4 separate regions of the Homo sapiens genome follow, and regions 1, 2 and 4 are each linked to region 3. Evidence: fine-mapped expression QTL. A gene starts in region 3. Each other region holds a variant in brackets. All regions are shown on one strand. Distances are between the middles of the regions. Region 1 overlaps FCAR (Fc alpha receptor). Region 2 overlaps PPP1R12C (protein phosphatase 1 regulatory subunit 12C). Region 3 holds the start of TNNT1 (troponin T1, slow skeletal type). Region 4 overlaps PPP1R12C (protein phosphatase 1 regulatory subunit 12C).

Region 1 (5,146 bases), 260 kb after region 3:
CCCAAACCACCACTCTTAACTCTTGAAGTAAATAAATAATCTTTGCTGGCAAGGCTATGCTGAACCTCCTTAGGCACTCTCTAATTAGATGTCCTAGGTCCTCCCAATTCTTAGACCTTTAATACCTGTTTTTCTCCTTTCCTTATTCCATTTAGTTTTTCAATTCATACAAAACTGCATCCAGGCCATCACCAGTAATTCTAAATGAAAAATGTTTCTTCTAACAATCCCACAATATCACCCCTTACCACAAAATCTTCCTTCAGCTTAATCTCTCCCACTCTAGGTTCCCACGCCGCCCCTAATCCCGCTCGAAGCAGCCCTGAGAAACATCGCCCATTCTCTCTCCATACCACCCCCCAAAATTTTCGCCATCCCAACACTTTACCACTATTTCGTTTTATTTTTCTTATTAATATAAGAAGACAGGAATGTCAGGCCTCTGAGCCCAAGCTAAGCCATCATATCCCCTGTGACCTGCACGTACACATCCAGATGGCCGGTTCCTGCCTTAACTGATGACATTCCACCACGAAAGAAATGAAAATGGCCTGTTCCTGCCTTAACTGATGACATTATCTTGTGAAATTCCTTCTTCTGGTTCATCCTGACTCAAAAGCTCCCCTACTGAGCACCTTGTGACCCCCCACTCCTGCCCACCAAAGAACAACCCCCCTTTGACTGTAATTTTCCTTTACCTACCCAAATCCTATAAAACGGCCCCACCCCTATCCCCCTTCGCTGACTCTCTTGTCGGACTCAGCCTGCCTGCACCCAGGTGAAATAAACAGCCTTGTTGCTCACACAGAGCCTGTTTGGTGGTCTCTTCACACGGACGCGCATGAAACAGACCAGCCTAGCCAACATGGTGAAACCCCGTCTCCACGAAAATACAAGAAATTAGCCGGGCGTGGCGGTGCGCACCTGTAGTTCCAGCTACTCGGGAGGCTGAGGCAGGGGAATCACTTGAACCTGGGAGGCGGAGATTGCAGTGAGCCCAGATCACACCAGCGTAGCGACAGAGTGAAACTCTGTCTCAAAAAAAAAAAAAAAAAAAAAAGAAAAAGAAGTTTTCTAAGGCCAGGCGCAGTGGCTCATGCCTGTAATCCAAGCACTTTTGGGAGGCTGAGGCGGGCAGATCACCTGAGGCCGGGAGTTCGAGACCGGCCTGACCAACATGGTGAAACCCTGTCTCTACTAAAAATACAAAAATGAGCTGGGCATGGCGGCGGGTGCCTGTAATCCCAGCTTCTTGGGTGCGGGGGGGATCTGTTCTGCAGATCCCAGCTGTACGACAGATGAGACACGTCCTCAGACACCAATATTCAGTGAAAGAGCAGGCCAGGGGGCTGCCGGCACTAGGAGCCAAAGAGAGTGCAGCCCCTCTAAGCTGGCAACGCTTGCATTTATTTAGCACAGATTTAATTAACAAAGGCTTTGAGTCAACACACCTGTGGGTAATTAACCTGGTCACCGCCCCCCGCCACCTCCCTGGAGAGGGCCATCTTGCCCGAGAATGATCAAAGGTTGATTTTAGGACCATATGACTAAGCAAGCTATTTAGATAAAATACTCCGCATTCCTTTGTATCTGCGCCCTAAGCTGTTTGGCTCCTGAAAAGAGAATCTGGCTGCTTTCAGCCAAACTATCTGAAGCTATGCCAACCTCCCTGGCCTTCCAAGAAGGTTTGCTGCTTCCTATTCCTATAATTTCTTCTGCTACTCTGACTGATCTCCCACACTTGGGAGGTTGAGGCAGGAGAATCCCTTGAACCAGGGAGGCAGAGGTTGCAGTGAGCCGAGATCACACTACTGCACTCCAACTTGGGTGACAAGAGCGAGACTCCATCTCAGAAAAAAAAGTTAAAAAAAAATTGTAGGCCAGGCGTGGTGGCTCACGCCTGTGATCCCAGCACTTTGGGAGGCCAAGGCGGGTGGATCACCTGAGGTCCAGAGTTCGAGACCAGCCTGACCAACATGGAGAAACCCCGTCTCTTCTAAAAATATAAAATTAGCCAGGCGTGGTGGCGCATGCCTGTAATCCCAGCTGCTCTGGAGGCTGA[G/A]GCAGGAGAATGGCTTGAGCCCAGGAGGCGGAGGTTGCGGTGAGCCGAGACCGCACCATTGCACTCCAGCCTGGGCAACAAGAGTGAGACTCTGTCTCAGAAAAAAAAAAAAAAAAATTGTAGTAAAAACATAACATACAATTTACCATCTTAGCCATTGTAAGTGTACAGTATAGCAGTGTTAAATGTATTCACGGTGTTTTGAAACAGATCTCCAGAATATTTTCATCTTGTAAAACTGAAACTCTATGCCTAAAAGAGGAATCGTTCAACACATAGAAGTTTTATTTCAACCATTTTTGTTGTTGTTGTTGAGATGGAGTCTTGCTCTGTCACCAAGGCTGGAGTGCGGTGGTACGATCTTGGCTCACTGCAACCTCCGCCTCCTGGGTTCAAGCCATTCTCCTGCCTCAGCCTCCTCAGTAGCTGGTAATGCAGGTGCGTGCCACCACACCTGGCTAATTTTTGTATTTTTAGTAGAGACGGGGTTTTGCCATGTTGGCCAGGCTGGTCTCGAACTCCTGGCCTCGTGATCTGCCTGCCTTAGCCTCCCAAAGTGCTGGGATTTCAGGTGTGAGCCACTGCGCTCAGCCTGGGAAATGTATACTTCAGAGATTGTTGGATTTTCAGGGCCTTCTGTGGCTTGACGTCATCTGGAAAAGTGTGGTCATTGGGAAGATATTACTTTGATTGGTTGTCACTCATGCTTGGGTGTTTACTGAAATGAGTCTGATTGGATGACTTTTAGAAGCAAGGAGCTGCCTGACTGATGGTAACATAACAATATAAAACGTATGGAGTGGCCGGGCTTTGTGGCTCACTCCTGTAATCCCAGCACTTTGAGAGGCTGAGGCAGGCAGATCACCCTGAGGTCAGAAGTTTGTGACCAGCTTGGCCAACATGGCGAAACCCGTCTGTACTAAAAATACAAAAATTATCTGCGTGTGGTGGCAGGTGCCTATAATCCCAGCTACTGGGGAGGCTGAGGCAGGAGAATTGCTGAACCCGGGAAAGAGAGGTTGCAGGGAGCCGAGGTCACGTCACTGCTCCCCAGCCTGGGTGACAGAGCAAGACCCCGTCTCAAAAAAAAAAAAAAAAAAAAAGAGCATCTTCACAGAGATGAGTTGTCATTGATGATGGGTTAAAAATCAGTTTTGGTGGCTACTTGTTACTGTGGTTACAGGACAATAAAATACTTTTCTGAAGAGCTCAGGAACTTTATTATTCTGAAAACGCTTTTTCCAAACAAGGTCCTTCTGTCAGCAAAACGACTTATATGAGTTTAATCTTATCCATCTCTGGGAATCTAGCCCCATTGTGTCTCTGTAATCCAAGTCCTGGACCTGACGTAAAGTCCCTCAACCCCCTTCATCCAAAATTGTGGCACTTTCCCTTTATTTATTTATTTATTATTTATTTGTTTGTTTACTTTTGAGACGGAGTCTCGCTCTGTGGCCCAGGCTGGAGTGTAGTGGCGTGATCTCAGCTCATTGCAAGCCCCGCCTCCCAGGTTCACGCCATTCTCCTGCCTCAGCCCCTGGAGTAGCTGGGACTACAGGCACCTGCCACCACACCTGGTGAAAAAAATCAGAACAAACTGAAGATATGGGCCAGAACTTGTATAAAGTGTGAAAAGCAGTCAATAAAGAAAGTTAGAAATACTTTGCATTTTTTTTTTAATCACAGGACCTGAGTTAAGCCAAGAATACAGTAGAAATTTTATCAAGTAGAGATAAGCTCTCAGTAAAGGATAAAAGTGGGCCTAAGTCCCTTCAGTTTCACTGGAAGTAGGACCCTTACATTTTATAATTATATTTTCATACATAAGCTACTGGACAATGAAGTAAATAGCAATCAGTGAAAGAGCCACATATGACCAACTTAGATTTCCTTGAGTAAAGTCTGTCAAGGGTAAAGCTGTGAAAGTTTATAAGAAAAAAGAATGGGGAATTATTTGGAAGACCATTTGAGTTTTGTACACAAGAATTTAATGTTTGCACACTTGATAATATATGTGAATATCATCAAAACTAAGTGAAAAAATAAATTAATGAGGTGAAACACATGCCTGTATTCCTTGTATGAAAATCCGGTAGAAATAGGGTTTGTGAAATAAATAGGGTAATCCTCCTGTAGGATTATGACTTTCACTCTTATCAATTTGTAGATGAACACAGCAGGAGGCTGAGGTAGGAGGATTGCTTGAGACCAGGAGTTCAAGACCAGCTTAGGCAACATAGGGAGAGCCTCACTTCAACAAAAAAAAATAAAGGAGGGGGGTTATTGAATATATTTGGCATGCTTACCAACCATTTATATTTGGGGAAGACACATTTAAAAATATAAAAAGAAGGCTGGGCGCAGTGGCTCACATCTGTAATCCCAGCACTTTGGGAGGCCGAGGCGGGCAGATCACGAGGTCAGAAGTTTGAGACCAGCTTGGCCAATGTGATGAAACCCCGTCTCTACTAAAAATACTGTAAAAGTAGCTGGGCGTGATGGTGGGAGCCTGCAATCCCAGCTACTTGGGAGGCCGAGGCAGGAGAATCACTTGAACCCAGGAGGCAGAGGTTGCAGTGAGCCGAGATCGTGCCACTGCACTCCAGCCTGGGCAACAGAGTGAGACTCTGTCTCAAATAAAAATAAAAATAAAAATAAATAAAATAAATAAAAAAAGAGAAGAACAATGAAGGAAGAAATTAAACAGGATATAAAAAATCAGAAGACAGATAAGATGGAAAACCATAACTTATGTGCAGAAAGGTGGGTGCAAATCGATCAGTCCTGCATAAGAAAACACCATTTGATTGGTTTGAACATGCATCTGGCCAGGCGTGGTGGCTCATGCCTATAATCTCAGCACTTTGGGAGGCCAAGGTGGGTGGATCACCTGAGGTCAGGAGTTCGAGACCAGCCTGGCCAACACAGTGAAACCCCATCTCTACTAAAAATACAAAAATTAGCTGGGTGCAGTGGTATGTGCCTGTAATTCCAGCTACTTGGGAGGCTGAGGCACAAGAATCACTTGAACCCAAGAGGTTCAATGAGCCGAGATTGCTCCACTGCACTCCAGCCTGGGTGACA
Region 2 (5,146 bases), 37 kb after region 3:
CCCCACGAGAGGCCACCCCAGCCCTGTCTACCAGGCTGCCTTTTGGGTGGATTCTCCTCCAACTGTGGGGTGACTGCTTGGCAAACTCACTCTTCGGGGTATCCCAGGAGGCCTGGAGCATTGGGGTGGGCTGGGGTTCAGAGAGGAGGGATTCCCTTCTCAGGTTACGTGGCCAAGAAGCAGGGGAGCTGGGTTTGGGTCAGGTCTGGGTGTGGGGTGACCAGCTTATGCTGTTTGCCCAGGACAGCCTAGTTTTAGCACTGAAACCCTCAGTCCTAGGAAAACAGGGATGGTTGGTCACTGTCTCTGGGTGACTCTTGATTCCCGGCCAGTTTCTCCACCTGGGGCTGTGTTTCTCGTCCTGCATCCTTCTCCAGGCAGGTCCCCAAGCATCGCCCCCCTGCTGTGGCTGTTCCCAAGTTCTTAGGGTACCCCACGTGGGTTTATCAACCACTTGGTGAGGCTGGTACCCTGCCCCCATTCCTGCACCCCAATTGCCTTAGTGGCTAGGGGGTTGGGGGCTAGAGTAGGAGGGGCTGGAGCCAGGATTCTTAGGGCTGAACAGAGAAGAGCTGGGGGCCTGGGCTCCTGGGTTTGAGAGAGGAGGGGCTGGGGCCTGGACTCCTGGGTCCGAGGGAGGAGGGGCTGGGGCCTGGACTCCTGGGTCTGAGGGTGGAGGGACTGGGGGCCTGGACTCCTGGGTCCGAGGGAGGAGGGGCTGGGGCCTGGACTCGTGGGTCTGAGGGAGGAGGGGCTGGGGGCCTGGACTTCTGGGTCTTAGGGAGGCGGGGCTGGGCCTGGACCCCTGGGTCTGAATGGGGAGAGGCTGGGGGCCTGGACTCCTTCATCTGAGGGCGGAAGGGCTGGGGCCTGGCCTCCTGGGTTGAATGGGGAGGGGTTGGGCCTGGACTCTGGAGTCCCTGGTGCCCAGGCCTCAGGCATCTTTCACAGGGATGCCTGTACTGGGCAGGTCCTTGAAAGGGAAAGGCCCATTGCTCTCCTTGCCCCCCTCCCCTATCGCCATGACAACTGGGTGGAAATAAACGAGCCGAGTTCATCCCGTTCCCAGGGCACGTGCGGCCCCTTCACAGCCCGAGTTTCCATGACCTCATGCTCTTGGCCCTCGTAGCTCCCTCCCGCCTCCTCCAGATGGGCAGCTTTGGAGAGGTGAGGGACTTGGGGGGTAATTTATCCCGTGGATCTAGGAGTTTAGCTTCACTCCTTCCTCAGCTCCAGTTCAGGTCCCGGAGCCCACCCAGTGTCCACAAGGCCTGGGGCAAGTCCCTCCTCCGACCCCCTGGACTTCGGCTTTTGTCCCCCCAAGTTTTGGACCCCTAAGGGAAGAATGAGAAACGGTGGCCCGTGTCAGCCCCTGGCTGCAGGGCCCCGTGCAGAGGGGGCCTCAGTGAACTGGAGTGTGACAGCCTGGGGCCCAGGCACACAGGTGTGCAGCTGTCTCACCCCTCTGGGAGTCCCGCCCAGGCCCCTGAGTCTGTCCCAGCACAGGGTGGCCTTCCTCCACCCTGCATAGCCCTGGGCCCACGGCTTCGTTCCTGCAGAGTATCTGCTGGGGTGGTTTCCGAGCTTGACCCTTGGAAGGACCTGGCTGGGTTTAAGGCAGGAGGGGCTGGGGGCCAGGACTCCTGGCTCTGAAGGAGGAGGGGCTGGAACCTCTTCCCTAGTCTGAGCACTGGAAGCGCCACCTGTGGGTGGTGACGGGGGTTTTGCCGTGTCTAACAGGTACCATGTGGGGTTCCCGCACCCAGATGAGAAGCCCCCTCCCTTCCCCGTTCACTTCCTGTTTGCAGATAGCCAGGAGTCCTTTCGTGGTTTCCACTGAGCACTGAAGGCCTGGCCGGCCTGACCACTGGGCAACCAGGCGTATCTTAAACAGCCAGTGGCCAGAGGCTGTTGGGTCATTTTCCCCACTGTCCTAGCACCGTGTCCCTGGATCTGTTTTCGTGGCTCCCTCTGGAGTCCCGACTTGCTGGGACACCGTGGCTGGGGTAGGTGCGGCTGACGGCTGTTTCCCACCCCCAGGCCTGCATTGATGAGAACCTGGAGGTGGTGCGCTTCTTGGTGGAGCAGGGCGCCACTGTGAACCAGGCAGACAACGAGGGCTGGACGCCACTGCACGTGGCCGCCTCCTGTGGCTACCTAGATATCGCCAGGTGAGGCAAGGGAGGGCCGGGCAGGACCTGGTCGGGGTGGGGGCCTGGACCCTCAGCCCTGACCAGCCCCCACCCCCAGGTACCTCCTGAGCCACGGGGCCAACATCGCCGCCGTCAACAGTGACGGGGACCTGCCCCTGGACCTGGCCGAGTCGGACGCCATGGAGGGGCTGCTGAAGGCGGAGATCGCCCGCCGAGGTGGGCTCTGGTGTGCTGTGTGTGGGGTGGGGGACACCTCCTCACCCGTGGTCTCCAGGCTGAGAGCTTTAGAGGCGGCCTGGGCACCGAGGCTGACCCTGCTTCCTAGGATTGTCTTTCTTTGTGCCTCAGTTTCCTCACCTGTGAAATGGGGGTGTAGGGGCCTGCCTCCAGGATTGCTTGGAGCCCAGCACACGCA[C/T]AGGATGAGAACTCAAACCCCTACCAACTGGGACTGTCAATCCCCCTGAGTAACTGAGGGGATTGGAATGCCGGGGCGGGGTGGGTGGGTGGAGGGACTCACCCAGGAGTGCGTTAGGTAGGATTGCTGGAACCCTGCCGCAGGTCTTTCTGGGAGGGGATGCGTTTACTTGGGGGGGAGTAGGGGCATGCAGGGGTTGCCAGGGACTGGTCTCCCTGTCCTCTGAGACTCATCGTACCCCAGGAGCCTTCATATGGGGTCCAGGAGCCCCTGAAACTGTGTCTGGCCAGGTTCATTTTTCTAGGGAAGGGGTGTTGCTTCTAGCAGGTGTGTGATGGCCACACAGGATCCCTGGGTCCCCAGCATGTCTTCTAAAGTCCTGGGCTTGCCTCCCAGCTCTGCCTGTGACTGGTGACTCCAGGCACGTCCCTGAAGCTTGCTTCCCTGATTTCCTAAAACAGGACCACTGGTGCCGCTTCATGGGGTGGTTGTCAGGGTCTGGCTGGGTTGGAGTGGAAGGGTGTGAGCATGGTTCCCGGCAGACTCCAGGGGACCGTGTGGAAGGAAAGGGAGACTGACGAGGAAATGAGATACCGGCAGCCTCCGAGACTTCTGACGCGGCTGTCCTGACGGGGCCGCTGGCCAGGCTGAAAGGATAGGATTCCGCGTGGGTTCAGGGGTCCACGAGAGCCATGCGGGAGGACTAGCTAGTGGGACACGTGACGGCGGAGATCTGAGGTTCGGGAGCCCCTCTTTGGTTGAAATGGGGAGTGGGTCAAATCAGCCCTGGACCTGGATTCTGTCTCCTTCCTCCTCCAACTTTTTATTTTGGGAAAGCTTCAGATTTACAGAAAAGTTGAAGCAATAGCATGTGACTACCCATATGACTTTCACTAAGATTCGCCAGTGCTTTTTCTTTTTTGTTTTTGTTTTTTAGACAGCTTTTTGAGATGTAATTCACCTACCCTACAATTCACCCAAAGTGCACACTTCAGTGCTTTTTAGTCTATTCACGGGGTCGGGCATTTATGACCACATTGGTTGTAGAACATTTTCATCATCCCCCAACGAAACCCTGCAACCGCTTAGCCATCACCCCCAACCATGCACCCCCCCCTCCCCCCCACCCCACGAAGCCCTCTCTGCCTTCTGTCTGTGGATTTGCTGTTTTGTACACTTCACATAAAGGGAATCATACAGTATAGAATCATCAGCTTTTAACTTTTTGATAGATTTGTGTTCCTTCTCTCTGTCCCTCCCTTGCGATCTCTTCCCAGGTATAGACATAAACACATTTTTTCCTATCCTTTCTCCTCCTGTTTTTTTCCCTCCATCTCTCCCTTCCTTTCTTACCACCCCACCCCTGCCTTTCCATTCCTGAGCCTTTTTTTTTTTTTTGAAACAGAGTTTCACTTTTTGCCCAGGCTGGAGTGCAATGGCATGATTTCGGCTCACTGCAACCTCCACCTCCTGGGTTCAAGCGATTCTCCTGCCTCAGCTTCTGGGTAGCTGAGATTACAGGCGTGAGCCAGCATGCCCAGCTAATTTTGCATTTTTAATAGAGATGGGGTTTCACCATGTTGACCAGGCTGGTCTCCAACTCCTGACCTCAGGCGATCTGCTGGCCTCGGCCTCGCAAAGTGTTGGGATTACAGGCGTGAGCCCGGCCATTCTGAGACTGTGTTGCAGGCATTGTACATCTTCGCCTGATGCACAGCAGGTATCTCCTGCCACAAGGAAAACCTCCTGCAGAACCACAGTAGGGATGCAACACGCTACCCCCTGTGTTGACCTTGATGCTACACTCTCACCCACCGCACCAACCTTGATGCTACACTCTCACCCACCGCACCAACCTTGATGCTACACTCTCACCCACCGCACCAACCTTGATGCTACACTCTCACCCACCGCACCAACCTTGATGCTACACTCTCACCCACCGCACCAACCTTGATGCTACACTCTCACCCACTGCACCAACCTTGATGCTACACTGTTGCCTGCGTTTCTCCTTGACATTCTTTGTAGCCTCTCCCGCTCTGGTTCAGGGCCCAGCTAGGGATCCAGATCTGGGTGATTTAGGCTCCCTCTGTCTGGATCAGTCCTCCTTTTCCCTTGGACCCCAGGGAGGCCGGGAATGGCCTCCAGGGGGTCTGTGAACTTTCTGACGTTGTATTTTCCTGCAGAAATTGCTCATAACTTGCATCAGCTTCTCAGAGGGGGCCATGCTTCTTCCCTCCCGTGGGGTGAGGAGAAGGCTGGGAGGGATACATTGGTGGGGGATATTGGCTTGTAGGATCAGCCAGGAACGAAGACCACTGGGGCCACTGGAAAGACCCTCAGCCGTGCTGCTCGGGGTGGGACTCTGCGGCCCCAAATCACAAGGCGACTGCCTGTGACACCCTGTGACACCCGGCTCCACACAGGAGCCTCAGAGGGGCTGCAGTGCGCAGGACCTGGATCACAGGCTGCACCCCAGCTCTAAGGAGGGCGGGTCTTTTGCACCCCCTGCAGGACACGCCCACATGATGCAGAATTCCCCGAGGTGCTGGCATCCAGACTGGCTCTGGCCATA
Region 3 (5,120 bases):
TCTCTCTGAGCTGAAAGTGACTCCATGTCTATTACCCAGGGCTTAGGCAGGAGACAGATGGGAAGACTGCAGGTGGGGCTCCCCCAAAGCCACACAGCAGGTTGGGGACCAGATGGGTCTCCCATGTGAAGCACTCTTGGCTGTGTTATTGAAAAGAATCCCGGGGTTCATGAATTTGGAGAGCGGAGCTTTGTTTCTTAAGAAGCGGATCACAACCTGAAGACCAGAAGCATGGCTTCTTGCCAAAAAACAAAAGCAGGCACTTTAAGGGAGGGAAGGGCAAGGCAGGAATTTATGCTGAGTGGGTTAGCTAAGTGCACGTATTCAACTGGTTATAGAAGGAGCTATGAATATTCATGGACAGGTGGACACATGGACACACGCATGTGTGACAAGCAAACACTCATTTTTTTTTTTTTTTGAGACGGAGTCTTGCTCTGTCACCCAGGCTGGAGTGCAGTGGCACGATCTCAGCTCACTGCAACCTCTGCGTCCTGGGTTCAAGCCATTCTCCTGCCTCAGCCTCTCCAGTAGCTGGGATTACAGGCATGCACCACCACGCCCAGCTAATTTTTGTGTTTTTCGTAGAGACGGGGTTTCACCATGTTGGCCAGGCTGGTCTCGATTTCCTGACCTCGTGATCCGCCCTCCTTGGCCTCCCAAAGTGCTGGGATTACAGGCGTGAGCCACCGCGACTGGCCGCAAACACATTTTACATGCATCCCACCTTCACTTGGTGGTGGAGGCTTAACATTTAAGTGCATTCCATTGAATGCATTCGTATCGAAACACGAAGCAGGGATATGAAGACACTCAGTGCACAGCCTCTGTCAACAGCCAGAACCAGTCCGTGGTCTGCGGCATCTTATCAGGAGAAAGTTACTGAAATCAGTCTCTTGTTCAACTAATGCTGTAGTTATGCCTTGTGGAACAGGGGGTTCAGCTAGTCAGCATCTGGCAATGGATGGCTGCAATGGTTGTAATATTGCTTATCTTGAGGCCGGTGCTTGTTTAGCTGCTAGAAAAAGGAAAAGCCTTGTGGCAGTTGGAACATAGTCGATTATATAAGTGTAGGGATGCGTGGCTTAACCCTTGCCTGGCATGGCCTTAGGTCTTGTTTATAATTTGGTATCTTATTGCCACAAACAGTTCATTCCATCAGTCTTCTGATCTCTATTGTCACAGCTCCTCTGGCCCATGTGGAGTGCACAGAGATGCCAAGACTAAAGGTCAAAGAGAGAGAGACACAGAGAAACAGACAGGCAGAGAGACATGACCGACAACAGAGAGACTGAGTTGGGAGTAGAGAGAGTAGGAGCCAGGCAAAGACCCAAAGAGAGAGGGAGAAAATACCACAAGATGCATAGAAGGAAGTGCAAAGAAAGGAGAAAAGAGAGACAGAGATATACTCACAGCAAGGTGCAGAGACATGGAGACCCTATAAGAGATGGAAATGGAGAGCCACAGAGGGGGAACTGCGGGCACTAAGAGAGACATGGAGAGAACTAGAAAGATAGAGACGTGAACACAGACACAGAGACCCAGAGCCAAAAAGAGACAGAAATGGGGTCATAGGTGGACAGAAATGCACAGAGAGACTGTGAGCCCCCACAGACACAAACGCTGAGAGGGGCAGACATGCAGAGACACCCACAGAAATGCAGAGACAAAACCACCCGGAGACACATGCCGAGAAACACACTGAGGGGCTCAGAAAGCGACAGATGCAGAGAGAGCCCAAGACAGACCCAGCAAGGGGCCCCGAGAAATGCACAGAAACACAAAGACCGAGACCACCAGAGACAGAGGTACGGAGAGGCGGGGAGGGTGAGGAAGCCTGCTCTCCAGGGCTGGCTTGAACCTAGAACTCAAGGTCATGGCTTGGCTGGGAAGCGGGAGGGGGATACCAAAAAAGATCAGCGTTAGATGGAGGTGGGGAGGGAGGGTAGGTTTCACCCTAATTGACACCCCACCCTCCCCCTCCCCCTCCCCACACCTGCTTCCCGGCTTTAGTGCCTGTTGTCACCAGGATGGAATCCTGGCGGCAGACAAAGGGGTGGGGGTGGGAGGAGGAGACAAAAAGATGGACAGAGACAGAGGAGGAGACTAAGAAGTAGAGACAGACACACAGAGACACACAGATGGAGAGCCACAGAGACAACAGAAATGGGGGTCCAGAAAGAGACCTAGATAGAAAGAGGGAACAGAGAGAAGAAAACAGGAAACATTCCTTATAGCCCATGTGTCATTAGTAGGTCCTCCAAGGACCTACTGTGTGCCGGGCATGGGGACGTCAAAGCACAGGGAGCTATAAGGGAGGTAGTTGGAGCACCACGGGAGCCTGGGGTGTGGGGTGGGAGCAGGGGCGGGGCTCCTGGGCCATGCAGATGGGGTTGGCATGGGGTTGGGGAGGGGCCCACGGAGGCTTCTGGACTCTGAGTGTGGAGCCAGGGGCAGCAGGGCTGTCTCTGAACTCCCAGGCTTGTGTTTGAGCAAAGGAATTCTCTCCCCCTCCCTCTCCCCTCGGGGCGGGCCCGAGCCTCCAGCTATAAACTCCCCGGAGCTTCAGTGCCCTCAGCAAGGCTCAGCCTCAAGATTCACAGCATCTCAGACACAGCCTAGGTAAGGGGCTCTGCGGAGCCCTGTGGTCTTCAAAAACCATGTCCTTGGGGGAGGGGGCAGGAGGCAGGTGGGGAAGATGTCGGGTGTGGAGAAATGGTGCAGAGGTAGGTGGGGCATACAACTGGAGGTCTGGGAACTTGAGAGGCTCAGACTTTAGGGGGACTCAGGATAGAGGGGAAAATACTAGGATTTGTGGGTTACACAAATCCTAACCCGGGGCTGCCAGGACTTGGATGTCCCAGAATAAAACCTCCTAGGATCTTGGGGTTCTGGGAATCTGGGGGAAATCTCAGCAGTCAGGGATATCTGGACTTGGAGGTCAAACAATCTGGGTGTCAGGATTTGGGGCCTCAGACTCTGAGGGTATCAGGAATTGGGGGGGTCTCAGAAGAAATTGGGGTTTTGGTAGTGGAGGGCTCGGAATCTGAGACATTATGATAGAAAGCATGAAAACTTAGAGTGCCATTATCTGGGGTATCATGAACTGGGCCTCCGAGTTTGGGTATCAAGATTTTGGGGGTCTCATATTCTTGAGGTTTCAGATTTTAGGAGGTCTCAAGACCTGGGGGTGGTCTTAGGATGTCCCGGCCCATATCTGGACTATCAAGAACTGGGATTTCAGAATCCAGAGCTGTGAGGACTTGCTGGCCTCAGAAACACGGGCATCATAAATCGGGGTCTCAGAATCTGTGGGTATTGGGATTTGGGGCTAGGCACCCTGTGGCCTAGGGTGTCTCAAAGACTTTGAGGTCTAAGAATGTAGGGGTCAGGGTGAGGTCTACGGACAGAAGGTGCCCTTTATGCCCCTGCCCCCTACGTGATGTATGGGAAGGTGAAAGGGGAGACAGGTGGGGAGGAAACCAGCCAGTGGGGTGGGGCGAGTGGGAGAGGGGATGCGGGTGACTAATTCTCCCAGAAGCCCCCCTTCCTCAAATCCCTTCTTAGGAAATGTCCTCGGTTTCACCATCTATGACATCCCCCCAAAATAGCTCCTGGGGGTGGGGCAGCTATTGTCTTCAGGCCACTGTCCCTTCTCAAATGCCTCTTCCTAATCCCAACTGGATCAGGTTCCCATGGACTTGTCATAAGACAAAAGAGGACAGCTGTGCTGAGGGGGCAGGGTCTGCAGCCTCCTGGCTGTGCCAGGACCACACCTACCAAGGTCTGTCCTCATGCATGCTTTAGGACAGCCGGCCCCCTCCCTCAGACCCAAGAGTCCAGACCTGAGCCCTCCTCCCTCAGACGCAGGAGTACAGGCCCCCAGCCCGCTCCTCCCTCAGACTCAGGAGTCTAGACTCCCAGCCTCTCCTCCCTTAGATCCAGGAGTCCAGGCCCCAGCTCCTCCTCCCTCAGACCCAGGAGGCCAGGCCCCCAGACCCTCCTCCCTCAGACCCAGGCGTCCAGGCCCGCGGCCCCTCCTCCCTCAGACCCAGGCGTCCAGGCCCCTGGCCCCTCCTCCCTCAGATCCAGGAGTCCAGACCCCAGCCCCTCCTCCCTCAGACCCAGGTGTCCAGGACAACCCATCTCAGTCTCAGGAGTCCACACCCACCCTCCCACACACCCCCCAGCCCCTCCTCCCTCAGACCCAGGAATCCGGCCCCCAGCCCCTCCTCCCTCAGATCCAGGAGTTCAGGACCCCAGTCCCTCCTCCCTCAGACCCAGAAGTCCAGGCCCCAGCCCCTCCTTCCTCAGACCCAGGAGTCCAGGCCCCAGCTCCTCCTCCCTCAGACCCAGGAGTCCAGACCCCAGCCCCTCCTCCCTCAGACCCAGGAGTCCAGGCCCCCAGCCCCTCCTTCCTCAGACCCAGGAGTCCAGGCCCCAGCTCCTCCTCTCTCACACCCAGGAGTCCAGACCCCAGCTCCTCCTCTCTCACACCCAGGAGTCCAGACCCAGGAGTCCAGGCCCCCAGCCCCTCCTCCCTCACACCCAGGAGTCTAGGTCGCCCCCTCCTTGGGGCCCCACCCCACTGGGCCTCTTCTCTCTGGTCCTTAGGCCGCACCAGGATGTCGGACACCGAGGAGCAGGAATATGAGGAGTGAGTGCTGCACTGGGAGGGGTTGGGGCGTGCAGTGGTGGAGAGGCTCTCCCACCCCAGGTCTAACTCTCCCCTCCCTCCTCTCTCCCCACACCCGTCCGCAGGGAGCAGCCGGAAGGTGAGTAGGGAGTGGGCCGGCCCTATGGGATGGGGACACGCCCAGGAGCTCTTGGGAGGGGAGGCGAGGAGTGTGGCACTTTGGCGGGGAAGGGGCGGCTCAGCCCTCGGGCCCTCGCCCGCCCTCTCCGGGTCTGGAGCGTCTCCTCGCGCCATCCCTGCACCGCCAGGGGGAACGTGCCCATCGCAGCCGAGGCCAGAGGGACCCCCGTCCAGCAGAGACTGGAACCCTGGTCTCTGGCCACCGCCCCCATCCCTCCCCCAGCTCCTAACGCCTTCTCTTCTGTGCCCCCATCTCCAGAGGAGGCTGCGGAGGAGGAGGAGGAAGGTGAGGTCCCGGACTCCG
Region 4 (5,146 bases), 45 kb after region 3:
TTGGTCAGATGGCAGCTCCTGAGCCCATCACTGTTGCAAAGGTGACAGGAAGGCCTGGTGATGTGCGCACCCTGGAGCCAGGCTATGGGCCCGGTCACATTGAAACCATATGGGGCAAAGTGTGGGTGAGGAAAGTCAAGATGAGGTCACAGGGGAAGGGAGAATGGATTTTCGTAGGCCCAAGCAGCAGCTGTGCTGCAGGGACACGCAGCAGCACCATGTCCTGTGCAGAAGGGACCCTCCCTGGCCACTTTGCACAGGGGCATGGAACTGGCAGGAAGAAGACATGATGTGTTTTTGAAACATTTGAAGCCAGCTCACTTGGAATTCCAGCATCCAAGTCAGCTGGAAGAGGGGGAGTTACCCTTGGAGGCAGGCGGAATCGACCATTGGATAGCTCCAAGTGCTGACAAGGGCGGACACGGGAGCTGATTTCTGCCTGGTGGGAAAGGTGATGATTCCAGCTACTTTGGGAAGTGGTTGGTCAGCATGGATTATAGCCGAAGGCCCCAGCTTTGCCTTGTTCTAGCAGTTCCACTCCTGGGCAGCCCGAGAGAGGCCTTCCCAACCATGGGCAGATGTTCATCATAGTATTGTTTGCAGTAGTAAGAGGTCGGAGCCCACACCAAAGAGGATGGATCAATCACTAAACTCTAAATGAGTGATCTAAGCAGGGGTCAGCAAACTTTCTCTGTAAAGGGCTAGACAATGAATGTTTCAGGTGTTGCGGGACACACCATGCCTGGCACCACTATTCCACTAGTGCTGTGGAGCGGGAGACTGCTAGGGATGGTGTGTGAATGAATGGGAATGACTGTTCCATCCCACGTTTATTGACAAAAATCGCCTTTCAGAATAGGCAAATCCACAGGGACAGAAAGATTGCTGGGTGCAAGGGGCTGGCGGAGAGGGAGGTCTGAGAAGTGACTTTTTTTTTTTTTTTAAGACAGGATCTCACGCTGCCTCCCAGGCTGGAGTGCGGTGGAGTGATAATGGCTCACTGCAGCCTTGACCTCGTGGGCCCAAGTGATCCTTCCATCTCAGCCTCCCAAGTAGCTGAGACCATAGGTGTGCACCACCATGCCCAGCTAATTTTATTTTTCTAGAGACAAGGTCTCCCTATGTTGCTCAGGCTGTTCTCAAACTAGTGGGCTCAAGTGATCTCCCATCTTGGCCTCCCAAAGTACTGGGATTACAGGCATGAGCCATGGTGCCTGGCTGGGAGTGACTTCTTCTTGGATACAGTATCCATTTGGGATCATGAAAAAGCTCAGGAAGTAGATAGTGGTGATGGTTGCATAATATTGGAGGTATCCTAAATGCCACTGAATTGTGCACTTTAAAACAGGGAAGTTGGTAAATTTTATGTTGTTTATTTTACCACCACCACCACAACAAAAGATAAAGAAAACACAACAGGTGGTCAACACCCACAAGCTATAGCTTTCTGACCCCTGGGCAAGGGCTCTGTCTACAGATACAGACAGATCTCAGCAACATGTTGAACACAAGAAGCAAATTGCAGAAGGATGTGCAGCAGACATGCAGAGGGCGCTGACTGTGGTTGAATAAAAAGCCAGTCACCCTCCCTTCCCCTCCCTGAATTGAGACCCATTCGGCTATAATAGGATTGAACAGTTGGTGACTCCTTTAAAGAAATGACACAGCCAGGTGTGGTGGCTCATGCCGGCTTTGGGAGGCCAAGGCAGGAGGATCCCTTGAGCCTGGGAATTTGAGGCTTCAGTGAGCCATAATTGCACCACTGTACTCCAGCCTGGGTGACAGTGTGAGGTCCTGTCTCAAAAAAAAAAAAAGGGTCAGATGCGGTGGCTCCTGCCTGTAATTTCAGCACTTTGGGAGGCCGAGGCGGGTGGATCATGAGGTCAGGAGTTCAAGACCAGCCTGGCCAACATGATGAAACCCCATCTCTATTAAAAATACAAAAGTTAGCTGGGTGTGGTGGCGTGTGCCTGTAATCCCAGCTACTCAAGAAGCTGAGGCAGGAGAACCGCTTGAACCTGGGAGGCAGAAGTTGCAGTGAGCCAAGATCATGCCACTGCACTCCAGCCTGGGTGACAGAGCGAGACCATATATATATATATATGGCCTAAAGTTTACTGAGCAAATCCAGTGCTCAATTACATCTAACTTTTCCTGTCACTACCAATATAATTTTTTTTTTTTTTGGAGACGGAGTCTCACTCTATCACCCAGGCTGGAGTGCAGTGGTGCAATCTCACTGCAACTTCCGCCTCCAAGATTCAAGAGATCCTTCCGCCTCAGCCTCCCAAGTAACTGGGATTACAGGCATAAGTCACCATGCTGAGCTAATTTTGGTATTTTTAGGAGAGACACGGTTTCAACACGTTGGGCAGGCTGGTCTCGAACTCTTGACCTCAGGTGATCTGCCCACCTTGGTCTCCCAAAGTGTTGGGATTACAGGCATGAGCCGTTGTGCCACCCCCCAATATAATCTTAATCCAGCATCTTCATACATTTTATCACCATTACCACTTCTGTCTATATATGTTACATATATAGGAGAGATATATATATAGGTTTTATATATATAGGAAATGTGTATATATAGGTGTTATATATATAGGAGATGCATATATATGTTATATATATATTATATATATAAATATTTTTTATATTTATATTTTTGTATGTGTGTGTGTGTGTAT[A/GTA]TATATATATATATATACTTTTTTTTTTTTTTTTTTAGACAGAGTCTCACTGTGTTGCCCAGGCTGGAGTGCAGTGGCGTGATCTCAGCTCACTGCAACCTCCAACTCCCGGGTTCAAGCGATTCTCCTGCCTCAGCCTCCCAAGTAGCTGGGACTACAGCCACCTGCCACCACACCTGGCTAAATTTTTTTTTTTTTTTTTGTAGTTTTAGTAGAGATGGGGTTTCACTGTGTTGGCCAGGCTGGTCTTGAAGTCCTGAGCTCGTGATCCACCTGCCTTGGCCTCTCAAAGTTGCTGGGATTGCAGGCATGAGCCACTGCACCCGGCCATGGTTTTATATTAAAAATAATAAAAATACGGTGAATTTCTGGTTGAAATGGGGAAAGGCCTGTGATCTCCGTTTTCCCAGTGCTTAGCGCTGACTCAGAGACCCTGAGTGGGACACACGACTGCATGGAGTACAGTTGGGAAACAACTGGGCTAGTCTGGGCCTCCTGAGTCTCAGAGGGGAGCAGGGGGAAGAGCTCTGGGCAAGTCACTGGGCTGAACCCTGGCCAGCCCAGTGTATGACCCTGGGTATTTCAGGTCATGGGGTGTGAGTCCTACCTCGTGCCTCTTATCCTCCTAGGTGTGGATGTGGAAGCAGCCAAGCGGGCAGAAGAGGAATTGCTCCTTCATGACACGAGGTGCTGGCTGAATGGGGGCGCCATGCCAGAGGCCCGGCACCCCCGCACAGGCGCCTCTGCCCTGCACGTGGCTGCTGCCAAGGGCTACATTGAGGTGATGAGGTGAGTTGGGCCAGTCTGTTCCATCTTGCTGTCTTATACCTTCCTGTGGATCTTGTCCTTTCCCTTTCTTTTTAAATGTATGTACCGAAGGCTATGTATTTCCCTCTAAATACAGCCTTAGCTGTACCCACAAGTTTTGATGTGCAGTCTTTTTTTTATTGTCATTCAGTGTAAAATATTTCCCAATTTGTAATCTTTTATTATTTATTTATTTTGAGACAGGGTCTTGCTATGTCACCCAGGCTGGAGTGCAGTGGCACAGTCGTGGCTCACTGCAGCCTCAAACTCCCCAGGCTCAGGTGATCCTCCTACCTCAGCCTCCTGAATAGTGGGGACTACAGGCGCACACCACCATGCCCCGCTAATTTTTGTAGAGATGGGGTTTCACCATGTGGCCCAGGCTTGTCTCGAACTCCTGGGCTCAAGTGATCCTCCTACCTCAGCCTCCCAAAGTGCTGGGATTACAGGTGTAAGCCACTGTGCTTGGCCTAATTTCAAAATATATAGGACTTCTAGTCATCATTTTGTTACTATTTTCCTGGCTTAATTGCATTGTGGTCAGAGAATGGGTTCCATATGATTCTAGCTTTTGAAATGTATCGTTTTACCTTATATACCCCAGTACATGTAAGTCGGAAAAGAATGGTGTCATCAGGTACAGTGTTCTCTGTAGGTTATTAGGTCAACCTTGTAATCATGCTGTTTTATTTGTAGTGCTTCTTTATCTTTAGTGATATTTCACCCACTGCTTATTCTGTCAGTTACTATGAGAGGTGCATTTAAATTCTTGCTGTGATTATGGACTTTGTTTCTTCTTATAGTTCTGTCAGTTACAATTTGTATATATTTTAAGACTAGATTATTTGGTGCATATATAGTTTATTTTTGTTTGTTTTTGAGACGGAGTCTCGCTCTGTCACCTAGGCTGGAGTGCAGTGGTGTGATCATAGCTCACTGCAACCTCCACCTCCTGGGTTCAAGGAATTCTCCTGCCTCAGCCTCCCCAGGAGCTGTGACTATGAGAGTGTGCCACCACACTTGGCTAACTCGTATTTCTAGCAGAGATGGGGTTTCTCCATGTTGGCCAGGTTGCTCTTGAACTCCTGACCTCAGGTAATCTCCCTGCCTCAGTCTTCCAAAATGCTGGGGTTACAGGCGTGAGCCACTGCACCCAACCAAGGTGCATATATAGTTTAAATTGTTCTAGTACACATTCCCTTTCTGTCATCCTCACCTCAGTCTTAGATTTTGTTCCTATTTGGCTGCCTTTCCCCTTTCTATTAAAGTTGTTGGTTCCAGTTCTCATCCTCAGGCTCCTCATTCTTTTTTCAGTTCCCTCTTCTCTCTTTTGTGATCATATACTTTATTATTTAGTATAAAAATGAAGTTAACATGAATTCCTCCCTGTCTCTGCTCATCTCTATGTTGACAGTTTTTAGTCAGGTTTTCTCGGTGAGGTACATAAGATGCCTCTAACCGCTCCAGGCCGCTGTCCCTTCGGCTTAGCACCTGTAACAGCTCCAGGCCGCTGTCCCTTCGGCCTAGCACCCGTAACAGCTCCAGACCGCTGTCCCTTCTGCTTAGCACCTGCTGAAGCAGAGCCCCTGGACCTCAGTGTCTGGCCAAGTCCCAGCTCTGTTGCTGACTGGGCCCATCCCTGAGCTGATCCT

What was found. PIP is the estimated chance that this variant, and not a neighbour inherited with it, causes the effect.
Region 1: its variant is the best candidate, but not a certain one, in a credible set for the expression of TNNT1 in whole blood (TOPMed, PIP 0.51).
Region 2: its variant is the best candidate, but not a certain one, in a credible set for the expression of TNNT1 in whole blood (INTERVAL, PIP 0.68).
Region 4: its variant is the best candidate, but not a certain one, in a credible set for the expression of TNNT1 in monocytes after R848 (Quach 2016, PIP 0.64).

Annotation. Positions count from the first base shown.
Region 1 is chr19:54,889,996-54,895,141 of GRCh38, reverse strand. FCAR (Fc alpha receptor) reads right to left here. Exons shown (of 5, transcript NM_002000.4): 5 at 3,722-5,146. Among named protein-coding and RNA genes, the nearest start is that of NCR1, 14 kb to the left of the region's middle. RefSeq lists enhancers at 1,000-1,752, 1,753-2,503. The variant G/A (reference allele first, on the strand shown) is at 2,063.
Region 2 is chr19:55,109,690-55,114,835 of GRCh38, reverse strand. It overlaps PPP1R12C (protein phosphatase 1 regulatory subunit 12C), which reads left to right. Exons shown (of 22, transcript NM_017607.4): 2 at 2,041-2,171; 3 at 2,251-2,369. Among named protein-coding and RNA genes, the nearest start is that of PPP1R12C, 5.4 kb to the left of the region's middle. RefSeq lists enhancers at 355-981, 982-1,608, 1,520-1,649. The variant C/T (reference allele first, on the strand shown) is at 2,569.
Region 3 is chr19:55,146,663-55,151,782 of GRCh38, reverse strand. It overlaps TNNT1 (troponin T1, slow skeletal type), which reads left to right and starts at 2,577. Exons shown (of 14, transcript NM_003283.6): 1 at 2,577-2,622; 2 at 4,615-4,657; 3 at 4,762-4,775; 4 at 5,076-5,102. The coding sequence starts at 4,626. It overlaps TNNI3 (troponin I3, cardiac type), which reads left to right. Exons shown (of 8, transcript NM_000363.5): 8 at 1-16.
Region 4 is chr19:55,101,739-55,106,884 of GRCh38, reverse strand. It overlaps PPP1R12C (protein phosphatase 1 regulatory subunit 12C), which reads left to right. Exons shown (of 22, transcript NM_017607.4): 4 at 3,317-3,476. Among named protein-coding and RNA genes, the nearest start is that of PPP1R12C, 13 kb to the left of the region's middle. The variant A/GTA (reference allele first, on the strand shown) is at 2,688.